2 linked regions of the Homo sapiens genome follow. The protein of the gene in region 1 interacts with the protein of each later gene in a pairwise test. Each region holds a gene or a part of one and is shown on either strand. Other genes may lie near its edges.

The links. The genes of interacting proteins can lie anywhere in the genome.
Region 2: the proteins of AQP9 (region 1) and SERINC1 interact in binary tests that used the Homo sapiens proteins (3 or more experiments, as listed by UniProt).

The regions. Positions count from the first base shown.
Region 1 is NC_000015.10:58,183,222-58,186,607, reverse strand, and holds the end of AQP9 (aquaporin-9), read right to left. Parts: intron 2,648-3,386; coding exon 2,473-2,647; 3' UTR 697-2,472; downstream 1-696. UniProt on the Homo sapiens protein: Aquaglyceroporins form homotetrameric transmembrane channels, with each monomer independently mediating glycerol and water transport across the plasma membrane along their osmotic gradient.
Region 2 is NC_000006.12:122,470,443-122,474,042, forward strand, and holds the start of SERINC1 (serine incorporator 1), read right to left. Parts: upstream 1,366-3,600; 5' UTR 1,296-1,365; coding exon 1,257-1,295; intron 1-1,256.

The sequences.
Region 1 (3,386 bases):
GTTTAATGAGCACCTGTGTAGATCATAGATTCCACAGTTCATCCTCAAAACTCAAATTTTGAATTGCCTCTTGCTTTAAGAATTATAGTCCACCCCCAGGGTTTGTTCCTGGTTTGTCTGGCACCTTTGCTCCTGACTGAACTTGAATCAAGGTGCAGGATTTCAGTGTCTTCTCTTACTCCCCTCCCTACCTTTCCTCGACACCAAGATCTCCGAACCTCAGCATTATTGACATTTTGGGCCAAATAATTACCTGTTGGGAGGGTTGCCTTTGCATTGTAGGATATTTGGCAGCATCCCTGGCCTCTAGCCACTAGAGGCCATTAGCATCCCCTTCCCAGTTGTGATAACCATAAAAGTCTCCAAATATTGCCACATGTTCCCTTTAGAAGTAGGGAGGGAGGAAAACCATTGCTCTAATCCATGAGGATCCCAAGACTCTGGAATCCTGCTAGGAATTACCTGGCCACTACTGGACATGGTCAAAGAAACTTTAGACCCGTGTGATTTACCCAAGTCAATGTTCTCAACCCTTGCTGCATTTTAGAATCACCTGAGATGTTTACAAAGGACCAACTGGGCACCAGTATTTTTTCAAAAGTTCCCCCAGGAAATTCAAATTTGTAGACACAATAGACAACCTCTGAACTAGACGTACTTAGTAATCTTAATACTTATAAAAACCAACCAAGCAACCAACAATGACCGAACAATTTTATTTCAAATAGGAAATATCCAGGTAGCTTCAAAGCAAGAAAAAAAAATCCCGTATGTCCATAGATTGTAGAACATAAGTCATCAGAAACATTTCACATTTAATTTCTGCTGTTCTGATATCAGCACAAAGCAGTTGGGAAACCTAATGCCTTTGGGAATTCTGGGCTTTTTGACAGTTTGACTGAAGGTGCATCCCTTGATGTAGAGCATCCCCTGGTGCTTGTAACTCATAGGCGATCTTTTGTCAAAAGTAACATCTATTAGAGAACTTCAAGGGGAAAAGACTGAGCCAGAGGAAATCCCCTGAATGTAATGTTTGGTGCTGGCAGGAAGCAAGATCAAGACTTAGCAAGACCAGAGGTGGCTTAGGAAGGGAGGCCTTCTCATAATGTTTTTCAGCAAATGAAAGTTATGATTAAATTGCTACCACTTTCCTTCATCTGTACTCAGTAAGTGTGGGAATAGACCCAGACAATGAGGGTCTTTGTATCTTAAGATTGAGGAACATTTTGTCCAGAGGTGTACATATTCTAGAAGCTGCCAATTCCACTTCTGGCTAGCAAGGAAGATTTGGCAAAGATTGTCAGCCAGCTACTGATCTTCTGAAAGGTAGAGGAATGCATTAGATAACATTCAACTTTCAGTGTGCTCTTGGACAACTCAACTTATCTTCCCTAAGATTTTGTTTCTTTATCTGAAAAATGGGCAATGTGGCATTTGCCTCACATAGTCATTATGAGGATTAAATTAGATAATGGGTGTGAAAGTGCCTTGTGAATTGTTAAGCCCAATAAGGTAATATCTTTTTGGAGACCTCCCACTCTGAAGATTCAGCTAGACCAGGATCCAGTGGCTTTCAGTTTTGGCTTCTAGGGCATGTGTAAAATAATGGACAAGCACAGTCGTTGATATAACTTGTCAAATGTCTGTTCTCAAGTGGGCAATTAGGAAAATACATTTGAGCTAAAAAGACAGAGTGATGTATTTTTCATGACTGAGGTTACAATGGTATTTTAGGTTATTATATACTAAAGACCAGGAAATTAATTGGTGTCCTCTAAAATGCAGGAGAGCAAGAGATTAATCTGATAAATGGTTTCCATTAAAAATTCCATTTGGCTTCTCAAATTCATCTTGTCTCCTGCAGTTTCTGAATGCCACAATGTCCTCCCCTTGTGCCTTCCAGCTGCATTCTCTTGCTCCCTACACCACTAGGTTTGGAGAATATCAGTATTTATACAAATCCAGTAGCATAGCGGGAACTGGAAGCTTAACCCATTAGCTCCCTAATTCATGAATATGTTGACTGAAACCATAGTTTTGTCTTTCAATTTAGGGTTTGGTTGGTACTCAGAATGTAATCTTTGTCGATACTGAAGAAAAGGGTTTTGGTGACACCATTTCATACAGATAGTGCAGCTGAAACCACCCAAATGGGACTATCGTCAAGATGCCGAGTTATTAGTGCTTACCTAGCAAGAATTCCCATCGAGGATGAAATAAACAGGGCAGGAGAGAAGGCTGTTTCAGGGGACAGTCAGCGTTATTCTGGGGGGTGGGGGTGGGGGACAATGGTAGAGAAGTGGTCATTGTTTCCAAACTTTTATGCAGATGCTTTTCCAATTAGATGTCCCATATGGCTAGCAGACAAAACTGGGTGGATTCCACCTCAGGCTTACAAGAACACAGACACTTAGATGCCATCTTTCTGAAGAGAATCCCAAACTGACTGCAAATCCAGAGCTGAGCATGCCACTACATGATGACACTGAGTTCATATTTCTCTGGTTTGTCCTCAGATTGTTCTGTCTTAAAGACTGAGTCAGGCTCTGGATGGTGGATTTCAATGACAAGAACATAGATGAGGCCTCCAATGACAGCACCAACCAAAGGGCCCACTACAGGAATCCACCAGAAGTTGTTTCCAGCTCTGAAATCAAACAAGAAATTAGTGATACATTTCTTGGCCTTCCTCCTGGTATTACTGTCTAGTTTTTCACTCACTTGTTAGTCTTTCTCACACTCATGGTTCCCTCTTAACTCAGCAAGAGCTAAGTATAAGGGGGGCTCAGTGCAGCATGGCAACTGCCATCCTTGACTTTCCACTACACCTGATTTCAGATGATCTATTTAATTGTCCTACTAATATTTGTGAGATATTATGTCTTATTTATTTTCTTTTTATAAAATATAGTGCCTGAGCCCATCGTTAAGATTGAGGGCCCCTAAGAAAGTTCAGGTCAATTATTCAGAATTGCCTTTCCCTCATCCTGAAATAATGATTCCTGTGGATTACAAGCAGAATGTGGAGAGATTCCTGGGCATCATTAGTGTATGAGGACAATCAAACTAATCAATCAGGAAATGTTTTTCAATGAATGAATGAATTTTTAAAAAATCTAAGGTGGATGTGTGAATTGCCTTCTAAATATAATTTAAATCAGTACTTATTTTTTAAGATCTTAGCTTGAGGCTACCCTCTGATAAGGCTGTCATGCCATGGCTCTCTCTCTTCCAGAAATCCTCAATGTTAGTACATTACAGCAAAGCTATAGTTCTGGGGAAAAGCAGGTATCTTTGTGAGTTGTCACCATCTTCTTTGGAGAGAGAAAATCCATGTAAATAATTTCTTAGAAAGGATCAGGAAAGCAAACAAATTATACAGTATA
Region 2 (3,600 bases), on another chromosome or scaffold:
CATCTTCCAATAAAAAACCGATGAAAACAATCTTATATGATAATCAATTATCAGTTTTCAAAACTGTTTATCACACTAAATATGCCTCTTTTGTATAAAAGTCAATAATTAAACTCTCTAATATCTTGAGATAAAATATTCCAGGCTTCCGTGCAAGAAGAAATACCATATAATCAAAAGAACAGACTGGCTGGAGTAACAATCCCCACATTATTATTTGATTAAAATTCAACATTTTTAGTTCAAGACATATCAAAACCTTTAAGAGTATATATAACGGAATCATTTGGGAAGTCAGAAAAGCAATTGTTAGAAACAGAATTAACAAATTCCAGACTAAAGAAAAGTGATTTGAGTCCAAATACCTCGCCTAAAATTACAAATATCTTTATTAACTGCACTGCCAATGTTTTGCCTACTATTTTGGAGGGGGCAGAGATTATCTTAAATAAACTGAAATTTGTGCCACACGGACCAAAGTCTTGCCACTATACTGAAAATAGTTTTACTCTAACAACTCTTTAATGAAAATGCAATGTACAGCTAATTAAGCATGAAATTTCAGATGACACACGCATGTTTTGTGCCTAAAGACAAAATTGTCATTAGGCACAAGGCATGCGTGTGTCATCTGAAATTTCAATTTTAAGTTGAAATCTGAAATTGACACTTCAAACAGTTACGGCAGAGCTATGACTATTTGTTTCAAAAACAATATTACTACATTAGCATTACTGCCAGGCGGTTCCAAATGACGACAGGCACTTTTTAATCATAATCTGCGCCACTGAACAAAGAGGGCGACATGAATCCAGGAACGACAGTGCGGCAGTCTGAGGTCGCCAGGAAAGAGATGACAACAGAGTGGGTACCCCACCGAAGGAAAGGGGCAAAGACCTTTGTAGAGATGGCCTGCGCAGATACAAACAAAACCACGAAAAGGGACCTCAAAGAATGGGAGACAGCGTTCACGAAGCAGGGGTGGGGGAGGGGCCCTATTCTAGTTCTCTTCCTCAATTTGAGTCATCTTCCCATCGCCACTAAACCTTACGGCCAGTGATCAGTTCTTCGCAAGACCCAAAGCTCTGAAGCTGAGTCTGAGTGACGAGAGGAGACGGGAAGAAAACGGGGACAGAGAGGGCACTCCCTGTTGGGTGGGGCACCACATTCCCGCCGGGCTCACCCAGCCCCGGCTCGGATCGCCTTCTCTTTGGTCTCTCACACTAGCACCCCAGAGGCCGCAAAAAGCACCTTACCCAGCTCGCCATGGAGCACAGCCCCAGGACGCTCCCCATCTCCACAACGTCACAAGAGCAGCGGATACAGACAAGATGGAGACAGCTTCTTTCTCGCCTTTCCGAGATTATTTACTATCTGCGAGACACTTCCGGACGCACAGCGCAACCCGCCCCTCAGCCTCGCGTCACTTCCTTCCAGGCCTGGGTAGGATAAAACACGGAGCGCGCAGCGCTGAGACTGCGCATGCGCGTCACTAGACGACACGGCTGTCTTCTTTCCTGGAGAATTTCTCAAGGACTGCTGGCTGGAAACTTAACGGCTAATGTGGATCTGACCGTAGTTTGCCAAATTAAGAAAACGGTGTGAGCAAAACCCACCTTTACCTACCATGCACTTGCATTTGGGCATTAGTAGAGAACAGAGCTGAGGTGGTGGTTGACGTTTTGCCCTCCTTCATCTGAGGAACCTCTCTGCTTTTTAGGGGATTGCTTCCTCTTTCTCAGTCTTTGTCCGTCCTAACTCCACTTATTTCCCATTTTTCCCACGTTTGCATCCTGTTTTGCTCTTGCGTTTGCAACGTATTCCTGCAGCCCGCTGCCCGGAACAAGTTTTATTGGGATATTTATATTCATCTGTGTGCTTCAGTTTCTCTGTATCATTTCTGTTTGCTATTGACTTATATTTTAATTTCTTATGCTATTAAGATGTTACAAGAAATTTGCACGTTAAAATTATTTTTAATTAGTTAGATAAGACATTATCAAACTCAAACATTGATTTCGAATGTCATGAGCTGTTGAGGCATGTGGAACCCTTGCATATTAGGTGATGATGCACATCTGCAGGGAATGCATTCCTATAAAAGTTCCAGTTATTTTTTTAGAGTTATTTGTTCTTGAAAATATTCTGGGAAACAGCTCAAACTTGAAATAGTCATTCCCATAACTAATAATAAGAAAGTGTTGTAAAATCTACAAAAATTGCATGGGTCGAGGTGGGGTAAACACCTAAGAATCTGGAAGAATGTCAGAATCCCTACTCCTAGTTATTGTAACCACTAAGGGACAATCTTGCTTTATTCTTCTTTGCCTTATCTGTGGTTTTGTAGACCACTCTTAAAGCAAAGTATTATAATAGAGCATCCATAAGGTTTAAAGAATTGTGGAAATGCTTGTAATCCCAGAACTTTGGGAGGCTGAGGCAGGCGGGTCACAAGGCCAGGAGTTCAAGACCAGCCTGGCCAGCATGGTGAAACCCCATCTCTACTAAAAATACAAAAAATTAGCCGGGCATGGTGGCACGCGCATGTAATCCCAGCTACTCGGGAGGCGAGGCAGGAGAACTGCTTGAACCCGGGAGGCAGAGGTTGCAGTGAGCCGAGATTGGGCCACTGCACTCCAGCCTGGGCTGCAGAGCGAGACTCCGTCTCAAAAAAAAAGAATAGTGGAAATGGAAATTACAAACCTAACAATATTTTTAATTATGCTAAACTTAATACGTTATTTATGGGAGAAGAGAATCCTAGTATCTCAAGTCCTTAAACTTTTCAAAGTACCAGAGAAGGAGACAAAAAACACTTATATGTGAGTAACTTTAAGGTCGTAAAGAATATGTTTATTAGCCAAATGGAGAATGGGTCTCTTAAAATTTAAATTTGCACAGATTCTTGTCTCTTGCTCCATTTAAGAGGGTTTCTGAGATATTCATAAGTTCTTGCACTATTCAATAGAGTTTTTTCACCTGAGATATTCAGAGTTAAATACAAAAGTCATATTAATCTTTCTGGAATGTAACACTTGGCCTTGAAATACATTAAAAAAAATTTACTTTTATTTAACCTGTAGGCTATGTGGAGTGGAATTTGCTCACTTAAGTTATTATATATACAACATTAATTGGACACGACAGTATATATAGACTATTTTATTCGTTAGAAGAGTCTTCGACACCAGTCTCATTTTTCTCTTTGCCAACTATGAAAGAAAATTGAAATGATGACTTTTTCAAATTTCAACCCAAACACAGCTCAAAGCATAGTTTTCTCAATATATACCAGCTATTAGTAGGAGCACCCATTTCTCCAGGTGACTTCCTGTAGCACACGTATAACTTACAATGCCAAAATTCAAATTAGTCTAAGTAAGTACGTTAGTAAAAAACATTCTATCTAGCTGAGCATGGTGGCTCACACCCATTATCTTAGCACTTTAGGTGGCTGAGGCGGGCAGATCACCTGAGGTCAGGAGTTCCAGACCAGCCTGGCCAACATGGCGAAAACCTGTCTCTACTAAAAATACAAAAATTAGCAGGGCATGGTGGCACACCTCTGTAATCCCAGCTACTCAGGAGGCTGAGGCTGGA